5 linked regions of the Homo sapiens genome follow. The protein of the gene in region 2 purifies or fractionates together with the protein of the main gene of each other region. This does not show direct contact. Each region holds a gene or a part of one and is shown on either strand. Other genes may lie near its edges.

Evidence for each region.
Region 1: the proteins of INHBA (region 2) and HMGCL fractionate together in Homo sapiens (co-fractionation; one large-scale study listed by BioGRID). This does not show direct contact.
Region 3: the proteins of INHBA (region 2) and ALDH4A1 fractionate together in Homo sapiens (co-fractionation; one large-scale study listed by BioGRID). This does not show direct contact.
Region 4: the proteins of INHBA (region 2) and LYPLAL1 fractionate together in Homo sapiens (co-fractionation; one large-scale study listed by BioGRID). This does not show direct contact.
Region 5: the proteins of INHBA (region 2) and MSRB2 fractionate together in Homo sapiens (co-fractionation; one large-scale study listed by BioGRID). This does not show direct contact.

The regions. Positions count from the first base shown.
Region 1 is NC_000001.11:23,818,629-23,822,821, reverse strand, and holds part of HMGCL (hydroxymethylglutaryl-CoA lyase, mitochondrial isoform 1 precursor), read left to right. Parts: intron 1-2,228; coding exon 2,229-2,312; intron 2,313-4,193. UniProt on the Homo sapiens protein: Mitochondrial 3-hydroxy-3-methylglutaryl-CoA lyase that catalyzes a cation-dependent cleavage of (S)-3-hydroxy-3-methylglutaryl-CoA into acetyl-CoA and acetoacetate, a key step in ketogenesis. Terminal step in leucine catabolism.
Region 2 is NC_000007.14:41,689,032-41,693,224, reverse strand, and holds part of INHBA (inhibin beta A chain preproprotein), read left to right. Parts: intron 1-2,682; coding exon 2,683-3,575; 3' UTR 3,576-4,193. UniProt on the Homo sapiens protein: Inhibins/activins are involved in regulating a number of diverse functions such as hypothalamic and pituitary hormone secretion, gonadal hormone secretion, germ cell development and maturation, erythroid differentiation, insulin secretion, nerve cell survival, embryonic axial development or bone growth, depending on their subunit composition.
Region 3 is NC_000001.11:18,885,217-18,889,409, reverse strand, and holds part of ALDH4A1 (delta-1-pyrroline-5-carboxylate dehydrogenase, mitochondrial isoform a precursor), read left to right. Parts: coding exon 1-48; intron 49-2,898; coding exon 2,899-2,946; intron 2,947-3,781; coding exon 3,782-3,937; intron 3,938-4,193. UniProt on the Homo sapiens protein: Irreversible conversion of delta-1-pyrroline-5-carboxylate (P5C), derived either from proline or ornithine, to glutamate. This is a necessary step in the pathway interconnecting the urea and tricarboxylic acid cycles.
Region 4 is NC_000001.11:219,207,855-219,212,047, forward strand, and holds part of LYPLAL1 (lysophospholipase-like protein 1), read left to right. Parts: intron 1-2,660; coding exon of another isoform or gene 2,661-2,677; coding exon 2,678-2,793; intron 2,794-3,637; coding exon 3,638-3,874; 3' UTR 3,875-4,193.
Region 5 is NC_000010.11:23,101,938-23,106,130, forward strand, and holds part of MSRB2 (methionine-R-sulfoxide reductase B2, mitochondrial precursor), read left to right. Parts: intron 1-2,206; coding exon 2,207-2,307; intron 2,308-4,193. UniProt on the Homo sapiens protein: Methionine-sulfoxide reductase that specifically reduces methionine (R)-sulfoxide back to methionine.

The sequences.
Region 1 (4,193 bases), on a different chromosome or scaffold from region 2:
TAGAAATACAGCATTGAATAAAACAAAGTCCCTGTCTCATGAAACTTATGTTCCAGTGAGATAGTTTTAGGGTGATATACTAGCAGAGGCTGAACATCCCTGTTGGAGGGAGATTCAAGTTGCAGGGACCTTCCAACTTAGCCTGTTGACGTCATGAAATTCAATGGCTCATCGCCTTAGTCTCTAAGAAAGCTTGTTGGCTAAAACAAGGCCAGTCAGGTGAGTTGTACATGTTCCAGCTGCTTCCTAGCAGGGAATTCCTGGGGGACTTCAGGGGGTTGAGATCCTTAGCGGATCACACAGTGTGCCTTCCGCTTTGCCTCGTTGTAGTATATTTATCCAGATTAAATCTGTAAAACAAAGTTGATTTGAAAAGTTACAGTATCAAGACAGGTAGAGGAAAGAGGAAAAAAAAAGTATTGTGTTACTTGATAGGGAAGACTAAGATTTTGAGCTGACTTTATATAGAGGAGACTCAGGGCATTTTGTAAAAACTGTCTTCAGCTACTGGGGGTGTCACCTCCCCTTAGACCCATGCTTGTCATCACCCAGCCTATGACTGTAACAGAAGAGAGCCCTCCTGCATCTCGCCCATACCCCGAAAAGTCCAGGACTGACTACTCCTCCCCACACTCAGTAATTGCTCTCTTCTGGGACAGCTGTGTCCTTCATGGTTTATGTGTTATTTTAATAACTTTAAAGAGTGGCTACTTTGTACCAAACACGGTGCCAAACACTAGGGATGAAGTGGAGTTGAGACAGACAAGGTCCCTCAAAGAGCTTATGTTCTACTGGAAGAGACATTGAGTAGGCATTCTTTATCGTGCTTTGAAGGAAATAATTATAGCTCTGCAATAGCGAAAATAATGGGGGTGGGAGGAATGGCAGCTTTGCAAAGGGTGGTCAGAGGAAGCCTCTCTGCAACTGAAAGATGAGAGAGAGATGTAAGAACAGCCAGTTTTTTTAAAAAAAGCCAGATGAGGAACCCTGGGGCAGAGGGAAGAGAAGGCAGGGAGCTTAGCAACCTGTTGGGTGGAGGTTGGGAGTGGACAGTAGGGGCGAGTGATGATTCCAGGAGGTCAGAGGAGGCAACTCATACAGTCTTTTCTTTTCTTAATTGGAAAGCATCAAGTGACATATAGAGTCATTTAATTTTTTTTTTTGAGACAGGGTCTCGCTCTGTTGCCCAGGCTGGAGTGTAGTGGCACAGTCATAGCTCACTGCAGGCTCAACCTTCTGGGCTCAAGCGATTCTCCCACCTCAGCCTCTTGAGTAGCTGGGACTACATGTCCATTCCACCACACCTGGCTAATTTTTCTATTTTTAGTAGAGACGGGGTTTCTTCATCATGTTGGCCAGGCTGATCTCGAACCTCTGGCCTCAAGTGATCTGCCTGCCTTGGCCTCCCAAAGTGCTGGGATTACAGGCATGAGCCACCGTGCCTGGCCTTTTTTTATTTTTTTTGGAAATGGAGTCTTCCTCTGTCGCCCAAGGTGGAGTACAGTGGCACGATCTTGGCTCATTGCAACTTCCACCTCCCTGGTTCAAGCAATTCTCCTGCCTCAGCCTCTTGAGTAGCTGGAGTTACAGGCGTGCACCACCACACCCGGCTATTTTTTGTGTATTTTTAGTAGAGATGGGGTTTCACCATGTTGGTCAGGCTGGTCTCAAACTCCCGACCTCAAGTGATCGCCCGCTTCGGCCTCCCAAAGTACTGGGATTACAGGCATGAGCCACTGCCCCCCGCAATACCTGGCCTTTTTAAACTACTTCTAACATACATACAGCAGCATACAGAGTCCTATAGGCCATGGTGAATAGGTGAAATGGCTCAATGAAGTTCTGGCTTATGCAGTAGGGTACATGCGATGCCTTTGACAGAGATGGAAAGGATGGAGTCAGATGGGCTTTAGGAGAAATTAGAGTTCTGTTTCGGGACTGCTATATGAAGAGATGCGAATAGAGCTGTCAGGTAGGCAGTGGAAAAGGAGTCTGGACTTCAGGGGAGAACCGGTACTGGAAGGATGAATCTCTTGCTTGTTCCTGTTACTAAGTGAAATATTCTTTTTGTTCTTAATTCTAAAATAGACCAAATGTGAATTAAATGGTGAGAAATATTTCTTCTTGTCTCATTATTAGTGAAGATAGATCCATTCTTTCATATTGGTCTCCCTGGGAATTGTGGCAATCTCTTCCTCATACTTTTTGTTTCCTCTTTTAAACCAAAGGTCAGCACCTCATCTATGGGCACTTTACCAAAGCGGGTGAAAATTGTGGAAGTTGGTCCCCGAGATGGACTACAAAATGAAAAGGTAAAGTTGGAAATGAGCCAAAAAAACAGTTTTTTCAAGCATCTGCTTTGAGTATTACGTGTGATAGGTGCAATGGCAGTTGACAGAGCTATGCAAGATGTGATTCCTCTGCACAAGTTAGGGGAGAGTAGAGGAGGCCAAACAGGGACAGACACCTGTGACAGTTAAATGATCTAAAATGGTGGGGCAAGCTGGATGGGTGGCTCATGCCTGTCATCCCTAATTACTTGGGAGGCTGAGGTGGGAGGATGGCTTGAGCCCAGGAGTTTGAGACCAGTCTGGGCAATATAGCAAGACTCTATCTTATTAAAAAATATATGTATATATATAAACTGAATGGTGGTGCAACAGGTTTGGTGTCCCCAGGTCCACAGCCCAGTGGGGTGGGGTAGACCCAGCAATTCCATGTAAGGGGATTTATCCAAAGCAAGTCACGAAGGCCAAATGTAGAGATTTAGCCTTGGGGGTGTTCCTTACAAACCTGTTTGGTAAGCACAGAACAGTTGGAAACAACTTAAATATTTAGTATGAGGAAAGTTGGGTCAGATACACTATGGACTTTTTATAAAATGAAATATTATGAAGCCATTAATAACATAGGTATATATAAAGTGACTCAAGCAGTTTATAAAATAGTACATGTGACTGGGCATGGTGGTGGCTCATGCCTGTAATCCCAGCACTTCAGGAGGCTGAGGCAGAGCACGATTCTGTCTCCAAACAAAAACAAATAGTGCATGTGCGCGTACGCACGCGCGCGTGTGTGTGTGTGTGTTTTTGGGAGATGGCATCTCACTCTGTCACCCAGGCTGGAGTGCAATGGCGCAATCTCGGCTCACCTCAACCTCCTCCTCCCGGGTTCAAGTGATTCTCCTGCCTCAGCCTCCCGAATAGCTAGGATTACAGGCCCCTGCCACCATGCCCAGCTAATTTTTGTATTTTTAGTAGAGATGGGGTTTCACCAGGTTGGCCGGGCTGGTCTTGAACTCCCGACCTCAGGTGATCCACCTGCCTCAGCCTCCCAAAGTGCTGGGATTACAGGCATGAGCCAATGCGCCTGGCCATGTATTTTTTAATCTTAACACTTTTATGTAAGAAAAAAGTTTATATATGTATGGGAGCATTTATCTAGACTAGGACCTAGACCAGCACTTTCTGTGAAGATGGAAATATTCTGGACCTGAGCTTTTCCATGTGGTGGCCACTATACCCATGTGGCCCTTGAGAACTTGAGATGTGACTAGTGTGGCCAAGGAATTGTATTTTTATTTTTATACAATTTTTATTAAATTTAAATAACCACATGTGACTAGTGACATATTGGGCTGCACAGATCTAGAAAGTTACACACCAGGGTGTTAATAGCGTTATCACTGGGAGATTCTAAGGGTGGTTTTCTTTTGTTTTTGGCATGTTTTTCTGAAAGAATCATATATTGATTATTTTTTCAATAAGAAAAGCTTTTTTCTTTTTCTCTTTTTTTTTTTTTTTTTTTTTTTTTTTAGCACGTCCATCCTAGCTTTAATAGTGAGTGCTTGTTGGAAACAATAGTGTGTAAGTTCCCGAAGGGCAGAATCCTGTCTGTTCTGCTTCTGCTTACTGCTATATCCCCGGCACCTAGCACAATGCCTGCAACATGGAGGGCTTTCAAAAATTATTTGACAGGCTGGGCATGATGGCTCATGCCTGTAATACTGGCACTTTGGGAGGCTGAGGCAGGCAGATCACCTGAGGTCAGGAGTTTGAGACCAGCCTGGCCAACATGGTGAAACCCCATCTCTACTAAAATAAATGAGCTGGGGTGGTGGCATGCTTGTGTAATCCCATCTACTCTGGAGGCTGAGGCAGGAGAATCGCTTGAACCCGGAAGGCGGAGGTCGC
Region 2 (4,193 bases):
CAGACACTCCAGTTTTACACTCTTTCCTAGAAAAACAAAACCCAACCTTGTGCCCTCTGGGTTCTCTAATTTAGCAGCTACTATCTGTCTGTTTTTGGAGTGACACCCTGTGCAGTTTAGGATTTCAGAAGCTGTCCTGCATAGAGGCAGAAGGGAAAACAGCAGGTATCTTGTTAACATTCTCTATGGGGCAAGGCAGATGTGCCCAAGCTGGAGGAAACCTGCACACCCTCCAGGCTAGTTATCCAAGGCTTGGGAGGTTTCCCTCGGCCTTCTCCTAAGGCCTTGGCAGGACCCTGCCACCCTAAAATCAACTGCTGATTGCCTTTTTAGATTTAAATGATTAAGCTCTGCTTATGGGAATCTTCTTCTCTTTTATTTTGTTAAGAAACAAACAACAACAACAAAACCCACACCAATTCTTAGCAAAGGGGAATATCGAATTCAGATTTTGAAAAAATAAGTCATCATGCTTCCTAAAATAAGACAGCTTCTCCCTCTAACTGCTCTCTCTGCTCTGGTATTCTATCTAATCATAAACCCAGCTTTATTATTCATTTCAACTCCTGCCAAAGACATGAGGTCGGAGTCAGAGGAACTCCCCTTACCACCGCCACCATCATCATGGCCAGCATCCTCGTAAGTTTATAGAAAGATGCCAGAGAACCTTTCCTATCCATCTGCAGCCCTGCTTGGCCCTTGCCTCAGTGAATTTACCACTATCATAATCACAGTGTGCAGAGTGTGTTAAATTAAGAACAGAATCCACAGTACGCAATGCACAGAAAAGCCTGCCTTCTGCTGCAGAGAACTTGAAACTGTGCCTAAAATTTATAGTACCGTAAACATCTCAGGGCCTCGAGTGATAAGTATGGCTGGATTTCCGTTAACTATAGAAATCCAGGCAGGGAGATCCTCCCAGGGAGTTGCAAGTTCTAAGATGAACTTCTTGAAGATTGTTCCCAGATTTGTGCATGGGATACATGTACAGCAGACAGTTGTAAGGAGGTCCACGGTCATGGAAAAGAGGATATGTTTCTATATGCCACCAAGTGGGAAAAATGGAAGTGAGGGAAAATATTTGATTAATCAAAAAATTTTAGTTTGGATACCTGCTTTCATAGTAATTGTTGCTGTGTCATTAAACATACAGTTGCTTAGGAAAAGAGAAGGAAATAGGTGACTTTCTAATTTTAGAGTTAGGCTGGAACTGAGTGGTTGCTAAATTCAACTGCCCTGACAATGTGGGGATTTCCTGTCCATTAGCAGCGATTGCTATTTGACATATGTTTCTGGTGCCCATTAATCTGCCCTGTAATGGGTCAGAGGCAAAAATGGGGGATTCAGAGGTACTAGGTGGCTCTCTTAATTTAATAGAACTCAATGCTAAGGACGCCTCTATTTGTTAATAAGTAATCAAGTCATTGGCTACTTTCTGCTAAACACTAGACTATGATAGTGACCTTAGACCCCGGGCATTCTAAACCAGGCTGGCAGGAGGGTGGTGGTGGAGGTGATGTGAGGTAAGCCTCCTAGAGGAACTGTCATCCAAACAATCTGAAAATTGAAACATTATTAAAGGCAGCACTAAGGGTGGTATGTTGGAGTTGGGGCAGGAGCACTTAAGGCAGAAGGAACAGCAGGTGTCACTGCCTGCAGTTGAGAAAGGGGGTGGAATTCTCAAGGCCTTAGACCCCAGAGAACAGGACTGGGCAAGAGCTGACATTCAAGGGAGGAACAGCATGTACAGAGCCCAAAGTCCCAGCCACTTTCTGTTGGATACTGAGCAATAGGAATTCAGTAAAGGACTTTCAAGAAGAAGTGATGTGATCAGATCCACCTGTGGGAAAGATGCCTTTAGCTGCTTCATGGAGAAATGACTGGAGAGGAGGCCTTCCTTAGTGTTGCAGAGGCAAAGTAAAGAAAATGCTGCTGCAGTGACCCAGCAAAGAGGTGATGGCGGAGGAATCAGGCTGTGACAAGGGAAGAAGAGGCTGGCTCAAGTGTGTCTCGACTGCACAGACTTACACAGCGAGGTGGGGCCAGGGGCTGCATTTTTGTCTGAGAATAGTATTTCCTTAGCTTTCTAGAGCTTACAGTGTCTTTTTGTTTATGTTATCTCATTTGACCTTCCTAAACCTGTGAGATAACAGGTCAAATGTCCTTATGTCATTCCCATTTTTATAGAAGATGAAACTGAGGTTGAGCAATTAGTCAACAGACACAGACTCGCAGGCCCTCTTCATTCTAAAGCAAGGGTCCAAAACCTTTTTTCTATAAAGGGCCAGAGAGTAAATAATTTAGGCTTTGTGAGCCAGGCAGTCTGTTGCAGCTACGCAGTCCTTGGTTATTATAGTGCAAAAACAGCCATAGGCAGCATGTACAGAAATGAGCATAACCATGCTCCAACAAAACTTTATTTACAGGCACTAATGTTTAAATTTCAGGTAATTTTCACATGTCACAAAATATCACTTTTCTTTAACCACTTAAAAGTATAAAAGCCATTCTTAGTTTGCAGGCAGTACAGAAACAGTTTCAGCCCATGGGCTGTCATTTGTTGACCCCTATTCAAGAGGGTCTGTCACAGAAGACTCCTGCTTGCCTGAAATTTACGAGTGCATGTAAATGTTGGAATTAACAGGTGTGCCTGTTTTCTCTTATGCTGTCTTTCATCTTCAGGAACAGCCAGGAAGACGCTGCACTTCGAGATTTCCAAGGAAGGCAGTGACCTGTCAGTGGTGGAGCGTGCAGAAGTCTGGCTCTTCCTAAAAGTCCCCAAGGCCAACAGGACCAGGACCAAAGTCACCATCCGCCTCTTCCAGCAGCAGAAGCACCCGCAGGGCAGCTTGGACACAGGGGAAGAGGCCGAGGAAGTGGGCTTAAAGGGGGAGAGGAGTGAACTGTTGCTCTCTGAAAAAGTAGTAGACGCTCGGAAGAGCACCTGGCATGTCTTCCCTGTCTCCAGCAGCATCCAGCGGTTGCTGGACCAGGGCAAGAGCTCCCTGGACGTTCGGATTGCCTGTGAGCAGTGCCAGGAGAGTGGCGCCAGCTTGGTTCTCCTGGGCAAGAAGAAGAAGAAAGAAGAGGAGGGGGAAGGGAAAAAGAAGGGCGGAGGTGAAGGTGGGGCAGGAGCAGATGAGGAAAAGGAGCAGTCGCACAGACCTTTCCTCATGCTGCAGGCCCGGCAGTCTGAAGACCACCCTCATCGCCGGCGTCGGCGGGGCTTGGAGTGTGATGGCAAGGTCAACATCTGCTGTAAGAAACAGTTCTTTGTCAGTTTCAAGGACATCGGCTGGAATGACTGGATCATTGCTCCCTCTGGCTATCATGCCAACTACTGCGAGGGTGAGTGCCCGAGCCATATAGCAGGCACGTCCGGGTCCTCACTGTCCTTCCACTCAACAGTCATCAACCACTACCGCATGCGGGGCCATAGCCCCTTTGCCAACCTCAAATCGTGCTGTGTGCCCACCAAGCTGAGACCCATGTCCATGTTGTACTATGATGATGGTCAAAACATCATCAAAAAGGACATTCAGAACATGATCGTGGAGGAGTGTGGGTGCTCATAGAGTTGCCCAGCCCAGGGGGAAAGGGAGCAAGAGTTGTCCAGAGAAGACAGTGGCAAAATGAAGAAATTTTTAAGGTTTCTGAGTTAACCAGAAAAATAGAAATTAAAAACAAAACAAAAAAAAAAACAAAAAAAAACAAAAGTAAATTAAAAACAAAACCTGATGAAACAGATGAAGGAAGATGTGGAAAAAATCCTTAGCCAGGGCTCAGAGATGAAGCAGTGAAAGAGACAGGAATTGGGAGGGAAAGGGAGAATGGTGTACCCTTTATTTCTTCTGAAATCACACTGATGACATCAGTTGTTTAAACGGGGTATTGTCCTTTCCCCCCTTGAGGTTCCCTTGTGAGCCTTGAATCAACCAATCTAGTCTGCAGTAGTGTGGACTAGAACAACCCAAATAGCATCTAGAAAGCCATGAGTTTGAAAGGGCCCATCACAGGCACTTTCCTACCCAATTACCCAGGTCATAAGGTATGTCTGTGTGACACTTATCTCTGTGTATATCAGCATACACACACACACACACACACACACACACACACACAGGCATTTCCACACATTACATATATACACATACTGGTAAAAGAACAATCGTGTGCAGGTGGTCACACTTCCT
Region 3 (4,193 bases), on a different chromosome or scaffold from region 2:
GTGGGGGATGAGGAGGTGTGGACGTCGGACGTGCAGTACCAAGTGTCGGTATGTCCAGCGGGTGGGCAGAGCTCAGCCCCTCCCCTGAATATGTGACCTCTTTCTCTGACAGCTCGTAAGCTTATAATGTGTGGGCTCTGACTTCAAGGCCTTTATAGTGCCCCTCCCCACCCCAGATTTTGAATTCTGTGGACCAGTAAAACTCCCAAAGCAAAGGACGGCACCCACACTGCATCCAGCCCATAGCGGCATCCTGTGTCTGGGCAAGAAAGGCCATGAGGGGGCCACACAGCATCTTCTGTTATTCCTCATAGATTTCTTGCCAAGGGGGTTTGGGAGCTAATGACAAAAAGCTGGGCCCCGGGCCCCGAGCACCTCAGATGGCATTGGCCTAAGAAGCCCCCATGCTTGGAGTTTATCCATCCAGAAACTGGCATGCACTTTACGTGGGCCAGGAAACTCATAGGTCTGTGATTTGAGGGAGAATAAAAGGTCAGCCCTTTTGCAAACAGGGCAAGCACATTCTGGCTCTGTCCGGCTGAAACCCTGGGCAGACGTGTGCAGGGGGAGGGGTGACTGAGGGGGAGGACCCAGGTCCCCCACTCTGAAGGTTCCCAGGACAGCCTGGGGCAGGAGTTGACCACAGCAGTGTCCTGGAGCTCTAGTTGCTGGGTCAGGACTACCTGGAGCTGTCCAAGCATGGCCTGGGGTCTGCAGGCATTGGCCAGGTCACTCTGTCTGTCACTGGGTGTGTGTGCAGGTGCCAGCTGACAGCAGCACCTGCCACCCAGCTCCCTGGTTGTCTCTGTAGCTGCCTAGAGCTTGCCCTCACCTGTAGCTCCGCAGGCGTCTGAGGCTGCATGGCAGCTGGGATTTTTCCAGGCAGCGAGGCTCCGGCATTCTGATAAGCCCCTGGGTGGATACTGCTGATTTTCATTTCCCACATTGCCTTGCCGACCTGGCTGGAGATTCTGGCCATGTGCTGATCACTGTGGCACGAGACATTTGGGGTTCTGGGGCATGTGAGGGCAGGATCTATGTTTGCCGGGACATAGTGCTGACGGGGTTCTGCAGTCCACTGGGGCCCAGGTCGCAGCCACCTTCTCTGCCCTTAAGCATCACAGGCCAATCTCAGGTGTGGCCCGAATACAGAGTGACTGTGCCAAGCTTTAACATGAAGGAGAATGGTCACTTTCTACTCAAGCCTAGACCAGCGCCGGCCAGTAGAATTTCCTGCAGTGAGGACAGAAATGTTCCAGATCTGCATTGTCCGTTCCAGCGGCCATGAGCCGCCACGTGTGGTTGTTGAGCATGTGAAATGTGGCTCGTGGCTACTCTTTTAGACAGGAAAGCTCCAATAACCCACCAGAAGACGGATAGGTAGCAAAAGTGTCAGCTATTACGATATAAACTATCTTGCCAGCCCTAGGAAGGAAAGAAGTGAAATTTCTCCCTGCTTCATTGGTCATGCTAGCGTTCACCACTGCCGGGCATTAGGTTTTGAAGGGAAGACAGGGGTTAAAGAAAGACACACACACAGAGAGAGGGCAGCTGAAACAGCAACACCAGTATATTGCAGAAACCTGAGGAAGTGGGGGACCAGCTTAATGCCAGGGCCCACCGCTGCTTACAGGCTGAGGTACTCATCGGTATGGGTGAGACGGGTCTGGGCAGTATGGCTTGCTGCCTGGCAGGATATTGATAAGATGTTGTTATGATCAGGTGGTTTGGCCCTCTCCGGTGGGATGTCATCGTGGTGTTCCTTGTACCTTTACCCAGCAAGATATGATAGGGATGGTTTTTTTTTTTCTGAGACGGAGTCTCGCTCTGTCGCCCAGGCTGGAGTGCAGTGGTGCGATCTCGGCTCACTGCAAGCTCCGCCTCCCAGGTTCATGCCATTCTCCTGCCTCAGCCTCCCCAGTAGCTGGGATTACAGGCATCCGCCACCACGCCCAGCTAATTTTTTGTATTTTTAGTAGAGAGAGGGTTTCACCATGTTAGCCAGGATGGTCTCGATCTCCTGACCTTGTGATCCGCCCGCCTTGGCCTCCCAAAGTGCTGGGATCACAGGTGTGAGCCACCGCGCCCGGCCAACAGGGAAGTTTCTTTAGGTGGGCCTTCGTCCGCCTTGCGGTCAGGCGGCTGAGCCGGATGGTTCTCATGGCCTGAGCTCCTGTGAAATGTTTCACTTGGCCCGAGGTCTGCAAAATAGCGGGGAGCTGACAAAATGGTGCGGTTTGGACCAACACCAGGTTGTGTTTATAAATGTTTGTTGAGGATCTTCCTATTTAGATTAGTAAATCTGGGGCTTAGGAAACAATTGCTCTGTCCATGATGGCTTCGGGGCAGGGCGGAAGTCCCAAGCATGTCACAACACCGGTGCATTCTTTTGGGCCTCACCTGGTTTTGTTGCCCATAGTCGCAGCCTCATACTGGACCAAAGAATTTTCATCCATGATCCCCTTTGGTTCTCCTGTCCATGCTAAGAGACAGGGAGGGCAGTCCCCATTTCCTAGATGAAGAGACTTAGGGAAGGAAGTGAGCTTACCTGGGGCCCCACAGCTAGTAGGTGGCAGAGCCAGGATTCGAACCCATGTCTCTCTGACCACAAAGGTCCGTGCTTTCCTGGAAAGACCCTGGGGTCTATGCCTTTCTCCTGGACTCTGAGCCTTCTGGAGAAGGAGCCATGTCTTACTCATGGTATAGCGGGTACACCAGCACCCTTAACAGGGAGCAACCTGTGGGCCGGGCACTGGGGAGGGTTTCATGGGAGCGGGGGAGGGGGGACAGCAGGCGTGTCCAGGACTTTCCTGGAAAACCGGCTCTGAGTCCAGTCCTCTTCATCCTTATCCTGGCACCTCCCTCCCGGGCAAGGACCTCACTCTTCTCTCCTTTCAGCCTTTTAACCATGGACATAAGGTGGCCAAGTTCTGTTATGCAGACAAGGTGAGTGAGCCTGTGTGCCTGGTGACCCGGGGTTAGGGTTGCTGCCCCTGCTCTGCCCTGCCAGCTGCTGATATGGCGGGGGCAGGGGGCATCAGTTGCTGTGTCCTTCTTTGGCCATGGTGGGTAGGTGGGCAGGGGGTGGCTGACACTGAGGGAGTCCCTGGGTGATGTCTTTGACTGGGCCAGGCATACAAAGGTTAACTTGAGCCAAACACAAGCTGCCTCAGCCAGGGCTGAGACATTCCCAGACATGCCCATTGTGGTGGGGCAGACCTTGGACTGGGGAGGAGGTGGATTCTGGAAGGCTGAGTCAGGGCAATTGGAGACACCATTGATGGAAAGCTAGGCCAAGAATTGGCACTGGAAAGGGCCAGCAGGAGGGGCTGGGGTGGCTGGGGGTCCAGGAACTGGCATTGTGTGGCGATGAGGGCAGTTGGGGTCTGGGAGGCCAGCAGCAGAGCCGTGTCTCAGGCTCCAGTTGACCTCAAGTTTCTGGATGGTGGGTTAAGGGGCACCAGGTCCCAAGAATAAGGTAAGGTTTTGATTAGACCATGAGAGAAAGTGGAGCCAGTGTAACAGCTGCGGGACTCAGTGCCAAGGCCTCGGAGAGCTGACCAACCTGGCCGGGCCCTTCAGGCTTCAGACTGGCAGCCACTACAGGCTCTGATGGGACGCTGTTGTTGGCAGCTATGGTGGCAGGGGGCTGAGGGCCCAGGGAGACAGGCATTGTCCCCGGATGGAAGAGAGTGGCCTCCCAGGTCTCTCCTCCCTCGCTCACTCCCCAGGGCCTTTCCCGCTGCAGGTGGCAGTCCCCAACCTCTCCCTCTCCCTTTAGAGCCTGCTCAACAAAGCCATTGAGGCTGCCCTGGCTGCCCGGAAAGAGTGGGACCTGAAGCCTATTGCAGACCGGGCCCAGATCTTCCTGAAGGCGGCAGACATGCTGAGTGGGCCGCGCAGGGCTGAGATCCTCGCCAAGACCATGGTGGGACAGGTGAGGTGCTGGTGGGCCCGGGTGGGTGGGGCGGGGTGGGGTGGGAGTCAGGTGTGCCCTACCCATGGCAGCAGACATCAGCTGAAGCGCTTCTGGGTCCTAAGCCCTTTTGGGGACCCAGAGATGTCCTCAAGGGACAAGGCCTAGGAGCTGGGATGGATGATCACAGATTATTAGGCGAGACAGATTGTGCAGAGCCCATGTGTCCTGCCTCGGAAATGTCCCCTCTCCTCCATCCCTCTGTCCTCGCTCCTAG
Region 4 (4,193 bases), on a different chromosome or scaffold from region 2:
GTTAAAGAATATTGCCTTGCTACAGAGAAACTGTTAAATGCCCAGTTGCACACGTAATTACTGCCCCCACCCTAACATCATGGTCTGTAAGTCTCTTTTTTTATTCTCTGTGTCTCACTCTTTGCTCAAATCCCATCTCTTCCTCTCTCACATTCTCTCCTATTTTAGAGATGTAGTTTTATTATTAACAGTGTGTTTGATTTTAAGCAACCTGAAATTCCTTTGTAAGTAAATGGGCTGTAAAGAACAGAGGGGAAATTGGAAGAGATGAAGGAAGTGAGTGTTTGGTAAGCTCTATTCTGTGAACTTTTAGGAAAGCTAGAATTGTGTTCTGAGAGATAGGGATTCTTAAACTGAAAGTAGATTTCTGTATTTACAGTAACTGTACATTTTAAAAGTTCTCGCAATTTTAGTTTTTATAACTGATTAAGTATTTGTATTTAAAAGGTTGGTGGAAAATCTAGAGATTAGTCCATCTATCTTGTTTTACTATAAATGAAATCCAGCATTTTAAATAATTTACACAAAGACATTCAGCTTGGGAGTATCACAGGCAGGACTAGAACTAGTTTCCTTAATGTTGTCTCTTTGATAAGCTTAAGAGATATTTGTAAATTTTTTACTACTTTCATTAGAAACCCATACGGTTTCTAAAAATTCAGTTAAATTTTTATTGAGTTACTGCTATGTGCAAAGCACTATACTTACCACTGAGCGTGTAAAGTTGAAACTGACTCATTAGTATGCGTGCACCACAGAGACACTTTGTTCAGCTAATCATAAGCACTCAATGAAAATATGATTATTGAAGAAAAACTGTTTCTTACCCTTAAGGGTTTCAAAATCTCAATAATTTATATTCAATAAATTAAATCGATAAGAATTTTATTTCAAAATGTCTTCGCTTTACAACCCTCATGATGTTATTAAAGAGAAAACTTCATAAGCAGAGAGAAATCTGTAACTAGAATTGTGGCAAAAAACAATAAAGTTGAGATTTTTTTCTGTGTACTTACAATAAATGTTTACCAGAAATACTAATTTGTGTATTTACGTAAGCTGTTCATATCTAAATGGGACATGTCAAAGATTTATTAATGCACAAATTCATGGATAATGTAGCCCAGTGGCTTTTAACCTTTTGGAGAATCTAATGTACATTTGCAAATTTTACATACAGTGTTAAGATGCTTATGCTTTTTTCTCCCCCACCAAGCTCATTTATGAACTTCTAATTAGATGTATCTACATCTGGAGTTATTGGGGGTATTTTGAAAGAGCCTTTCAGGTGGCTCTTGTCCATGGTGGGCTACTGCTACGATAAGAACTTATTATTTCTTGCTGGTATGTTGAAAATCACAGATAACTTTTATTCATTATTTACATAGTGTGCCTTTTTTAAAAAATCTAAACTTTGCCAGACTGGTAATCTTCTCTCGGGTATTTGTGTTCTGAGTCCAAAATAATATTACCTGCCTATTCCAGATAAAGTAGTCCTATTTTAATAAATATCAAGGGATAGTAGAAAGTATATTAAACTCTATTGCAAAAGATCCGAATTCCAAAATTACTATTAATAGTTTTATATTTAAAATAATATGTACCTAATCTTGGGCCTCAGTTCCCTCCATGTATAAAAGATTATTGTAGTAAATTCAAATTTATGGTCTCTTAAGAGCTCAGCTTTACACTTTGTTAAGTGAAATAAAGCAGCAGACTTGAAATTAGGAGATTTGAATTCTACTTCAAAGTATATTTTTGTATTTCTATGAGTGTGTGGCTACATGATTTACATTCTGTATTTTCTCATGGAATATAATGAGATGTCATTTAGCTTTCTCTCAAGCTTAGGAATGTCACACTGAGTCACTGACTTGTCGTCAGGCCTGGAATCACCATTCTCTCTGCTGCCGTCACCTCATAACAGCTATCTCCATATTCTGTGTTGGATGTGTTTCCTTCTCAAAGTTCCCCTGAACAGGAGGGTCTGTGTATTTTAATCTGCATATATCCAGTGACTGGCATAGAATTGGTACATTAAAGAGACAATAACAGTTTGACTAATTTTTTTTTCAAACTTTGGTTTTAAAAACTACATATAGGCATACATGTTTCATTTTTATTATATCACCATAAATTAGTTTCCAAAATAATATTGTAATCCAAAAATGTGTTAACTAGCTCCTCAAATTTTTTTTATCATTCTTAATTCAGAATTCACTAAGCATCTATTATATAGCAAACACCAGATACATAACTCCTTATGGAGCTCACAGCTTAGCAAGTAAGACAAAAAGGTGCAAATTATTAATTGCGTTGCAGTGTGAGGGTTTCTGTACGTGTAAACAAAATATAAGTAAATATTGAGAATTTAAGTAATGCTTGTAATATGACTCATTTTGAATTACGATAGATATTTTACTTGGTGAACATGATATATTTGTTTAATCCTGGCTCCTTGTAGAGCACAGCTCTCTTTACCAGTGGTGACATAGAGGGAACAGGGTTATTTATGTTATCGCAGGCCTTTGTCTGTGAAACTTAGAGTAGACGAAATTTCTTTTTAGCATTCTCTTTAAAGGTCTCCAGATATTTTAAAAATATGGAAAATTGTTATATATCATATCCTAAATTATTATTTTATGTATTCTACTTTTAAGTATGTTTTTGTTTTTAGGAGGATTCTCTATGGGAGGATGCATGGCAATACATTTAGCATATAGAAATCATCAAGATGTGGCAGGAGTATTTGCTCTTTCTAGTTTTCTGAATAAAGCATCTGCTGTTTACCAGGTAAGTTCCAGATTTAAAAAAAAATGAAAAAAATATGAAATATATACATGTTAAAACTAAAGCAAAATCGGTAATAAAGCTGTAAAACACACACACAGTTGATGCACAGTTGATATGGATTGACCATTCCTGGAATTCATGGCCAAATGAGTCGTAGTGATTAAATTCCAGCTGATCATTAATGTTTTGGAAATCCCCTGTACAAGAAATATTGTTAAGCAAAATGTCAAGGAGGAAAGGATAATCATGTGTGTGGTTGTGGGGGAGCATATATGTAAATTTTATACATATTAAAACTGCATGATGGTTATAGCTGGGTTTGCTTATTGCATCATGAACATAAAACAAAAATCAATTACATAGCACATACTTATTATGCAGCAATATCCTCATCTATGAATATGATGCAGCTTCAATTATAATGTTACAGCTTCAGTACCAGAAGTGGAAATGTTAAAGCAGATACAGAATAGAGAACTAAAATGTAATTGTCCCCTTGATTGTGCCTTAGCTGTGTACTCCTCCCTCCTTCCACATTGTGTGAAGAGGTCTGTCTTCCCAAGTCACTTAGTTTCTTTAGGAAATGCTTTGGCCATTTTTAAGACGTCCTCTATAGAATAAATGTAAGTGACACACAGTTACAAATTGAGTGATGCCAGGAACCAGCTAAGTCCCCAGGCCTGGCCCACCAATGTATACCTCAGACAGCACTCCCTCTGCCTTTTTTTTCCCATTAGTTATTGAAGCCTTGGTAAAATTGGAATTTTCCTGTTCTCTCTGATTTCTAAGAATGATCTTAAATGGAATTTCTTAAACTTTTCTGTCTTTGTATCTTCTTCTCTAGGCTCTTCAGAAGAGTAATGGTGTACTTCCTGAATTATTTCAGTGTCATGGTACTGCAGATGAGTTAGTTCTTCATTCTTGGGCAGAAGAGACAAACTCAATGTTAAAATCTCTAGGAGTGACCACGAAGTTTCATAGTTTTCCAAATGTTTACCATGAGCTAAGCAAAACTGAGTTAGACATATTGAAGTTATGGATTCTTACAAAGCTGCCAGGAGAAATGGAAAAACAAAAATGAATGAATCAAGAGTGATTTGTTAATGTAAGTGTAATGTCTTTGTGAAAAGTGATTTTTACTGCCAAATTATAATGATAATTAAAATATTAAGAAATAACACTTTCCTGACTTTTTTATTATTAAAATGCTTATCACTGTAGACAGTAGCTAATCTTATTAATGAAAAACAATAGACAAACATCTGTGCATAATTTTTCAGACACAATTCTGTAAATATTTGGAAACCTTTTAAGTATTTAAACTTTTAAATTTTTGAAATAAAGTATTCTAAACTAATATAAATAAGGACAATGAAAAAACATGAAAGGACTTAGCATAA
Region 5 (4,193 bases), on a different chromosome or scaffold from region 2:
CATTTGTCAAAACTGTCTCTGTCTTTCATGACCTTTACAGTTTTGGGGAGGACTGGTCAGGTTCCTTGTAGAATGTCCCTCAGTCTGGGATTGTTTGATGTTTCTCCTCACAATTAAACTGGGATTATGGGCTATTAGGAAAAATCTCATAGAGATGCAGTTCCTTTCTAGATTCATGTGCTCTTCCCCATCTCTCTCCCCAACACTGAGACACACACGCGCAAACGTACACTCACACACTCACACTTACTTATTTATATTTCTCTTGCTAAACCATTTGAGAGTTGCAGACATCATGACACTTTACTGCTAAATATTTCGGCATGTTTCCTAAGACCAAAGATGTTTTCCTACAAAACTGCAAGACAGTTTTCCTCTCAGGAAATTGAGCACCCTTGTCTAATACACAGTTGATATTCAAATTTCCCACCATATACCAACAATGTCTTTTATAGCTCTTGTTTTTTTTTCTGGGATCTAGAATTTAATAAAGGGTCACACATTGGTTTTAGTTGTGGACAGTCCTTCTTTTGAATAATTTCCCTCAATTTTCACTTATGTGATTTTTTCTTCATGAGACACTGATTGAATGTTTTCAGCAGGAAAACTTTACTGGTGATGTTGTGTCCTTTCCAGAGCATCACATCAGGAAGACAGGATGTCACTTGTCCCACTGTTGGTGATGCTAACTTAGCCTACTTGGTTAAAGTAGTGGCATTTTCTTTTTTGTAATTAATAAACTTTGGGGTTGTATTTTGAGAAGATGTGACTATCTGTTCCCCAGTAGTCTTTCACCCAGGGGTTTTAGAATCCTCTGATGATTTTTACAAAATGGTGATTTTAAAAATTCTATACTTCCTTCTTCATTTATTACTTGACATTCTGCGTGATAACTCTGAAGGCCATTGAGCAATAGTAATTATCACATAAATACATTTTGTTTTGTTCCCAAAGTGTCGAATACCCCAAAAATCATGTGTTAACTGAGGTATATTCCATAGGAATTTCAGAGATCTATTTTCATAGCAAAAAGAAACCCCTGTAGTCTTATAAAGATTGTATTTAATAAAAGATACCTCCTAGGGGAGCCCTTGTGTAAAAATAATAACAGTAATAAAAAGAAAGAAGAAAACTTTTAATATATTAAATAGCCTAAAAACCTTTTAGCAAAATGTAAGCAATCAACTATATGTATCACTGGAAATGCAGTATTGTTCAGTATTATAAACTGGAGAGGAGATAAGTCTTTTCTTGCCGAAGGATAATTTAGGACTTTTTTTGTAACCTAAAATGAATTTCAACTGTAACTTCTGACGTGTTTGATATATAGGTGCTGGCATCACGGGCATTCAACGTTTCATCTTCAGTGCCATAGTCAGATTACTAACCCTTTGGGCCTCTGTTTCTCATCTGCAAACTGAAGAGTTGGACACATTATAAAATCCTTTCAGATTCTTAATGTTGGATGATTAAAAACATTTATTATAGGAGTTGGGCTTCCTACTCCCTTTGGCTAAAGAGAGTATTGCTCTAGTTACTTGGTTTACACTCACGTGAATAAATGTAGTAATATAGATGCCAAGGTGAGTAGGAAAGAAGAAAACAAAATATGGACAAAAACCATGAAGCATCATAATAGATTATGGTAGGTCTGTTTCTCTTTCAGGACTATATGCTATGGGAGTTTCTTCTTTTGTTCCATGCAAGAAGATTTTTAAAATAGAGACCTCCCTTGACAAAGAAAATCAGAGATATCCTTATAAACTAGCAAGGGAGAAGAGTTTAATAACCGACTAGCTCACAGTTCTTTTCTGCCCAATGCCTCAACTACTTCTGGCTAGATTCTGACAGCAACTGCTCCTCTAAAAGTCATCAGAGAAGAGAGGATCAGTTTCTACCCTTAGGTACCCGAAGGGAATGTATTCCGCATTCTTTCATATTTCAGCTGCCTCTTTCACTTCTGTGCCCCAGGAAGACTAGAAAACTGGCTCTCTACTTCTTGTTAATTTCTTATTAAATTAAATAGTCAATGAAGGCATTTTGTGCCTGAGCCTTCTGGTCCCCATGAAGAATAAACTCGTGGGAGAGAGAGGAAGGGACTGGATTATTCTGCTGGGTGACAGTACACTTAGGGAAAAAGGTCAAGGAAGAAAAGTCCATCAGGCATTTTTGTTTTAATTTTTAAAATTCCTGTTTAACAATACAGGGTCTCTTGCAACGTGTGAGCTGCCTCTTGCCAAGAGTGAGTGGCAAAAGAAACTAACCCCGGAGCAGTTCTACGTCACAAGAGAAAAGGGAACGGAACCGGTAAGCTAAGCTGGTTTACAGTTTTCTGATTGCATGTGTTGGCAGTGAGGGGCCAGTTGGAATAGGTCCAGCTATGAAACCCAGCTGCCCAGCAACACTCCACAGGCCTGGTCTTCCTCTTCCATTGTGCCCTTCTCGGGGTGTTGATATCCATCGAGTTGTAGAAACCTGAAACTTTTCTCTGGACACAGCATCTCTATTCTGACTCCTAAATAACCTTCCTGTCATTTCACTTCCATGCACCGCTGTCACCTCCCCGTGGGGCCAAGTCACCATCACCTTCTCTGTGCATGGCCATTCTTGCTCCAGCCAACCCATTCTCCACACTGCAGCCAAAGAGTTCTTTGGAAAACACAGATCTGACCATATCACTCCCCAGCTCAAAACCTTTGGTGGCTGCCCAGTGCTTTCAAGGAAAAAGAAAAGTATGAGATGGCTAATAAGGTCCTAACGGCCCCTGGCTCCCACCCCTATCCTCAAATCCAGCCATCTTCCCTCTTGACACGGTACTTTGGCCACACCACCCTTGAGCTCTCACATGCCCTGGGCTCCCTTCTCTTTTAAGGCCTTTGCACCCAGCTTTCCTTCTTCTCTCCCGTCATCCCTCCCCACACTCTCCACCCATTCATTCAGACCTACCTTGTAGCTCTCGGCCCAAATCTCACTTTCTCTGGCAAACCTTCTCCTAGCCCCCAGCTAGGGTTGCTTCTAGCAGAACTCTTCCTTCATAGCATTTGCCATCACTGCTGTAACCCCTGGCACCTAACGTGGTGGCTGGCCTAGTAGGCATCCGAAAAATCAACTTTTGTGAATGTTGAATGACTGCCGGGTAAGAGGTGGAAACATTATTTAAACTGCATTTGGCAATCTCAGCTTTCATTCATTTTCTGAGAGAACAACCCTCAGTGGTTCTTCATTATAACACCACTTTTTACAGTGCTACATTTATCTCTCTCTCTCTGTGTGTCTGTGTGTGTGTGTGTGTGTGTGTGTGTGTGTATACAAGTTTCTGGGGTACTTGAGAAAATTTGTTACACATATATAATGCATAGTAATCGAGTCAGGGTATTTAGGGTGTCTGTCACCCGAATACAATACATTTTTGTTAAGTGTCATCCTCCTACTCTGCCATCAAACACTGAGTGTATTCCTTTTCTCTTACTGTATGTTTGTGGACTTTAAGCCACTCCTCTTCATCCTCCCCCTACCCCCTGCTTTCCAGGGTAGGAAACCCCCTTTCCAGGCTCTGTTATCCATTTTTCCACTCTCTACCTCCATGTGTTCAAATTCTTTAGCTCTCACATATAAATGAGAACATAGTGCCGCGTTGCTTAACAAGTGGTCTGTCTTAGACCCAAATATAGCTACTGGAATGTAGCTTTTTTGAATTGAACTTTGTTATTAGATATTTTTACTAGTGAAGCAGATCCCACAGAGTGGACCCCAGCCCTGTGGCTTCAAACATAGTAGAGTATGAATGTTTTTTCCTTTGTCAGCACCTGCAAAACTCATGTCACTACCCACATGCACTGCCATTGTAATCATGGTCTCACCCTCAGTTTTTCCAATGCTAAAGTCATCAGAAGGGCCAGCACATTCCAATAAAGTCCCCTGAAATGCTGGTATTTTTGAAAACTTCCTGTAGGCGGGATTTTACTAAAGCCCTTGTTGGGAAAGAGACTACATTAGCCATTTGTGTAGACTGCACAAGGGAACCACATGATACTCTGTGAGCAGTTGTATGTATTCCCAGAGTATTCTAAGCCAACCCTAATTCTCAGGTACAGAGCCAGGCAGGGCTTGGTACATAGACAGACCCTAGAGATGAGCTGCCAGATGTTTAGGAAAATAAATCTGTGGGCTTCTCAAACAGATGGTGCAATATA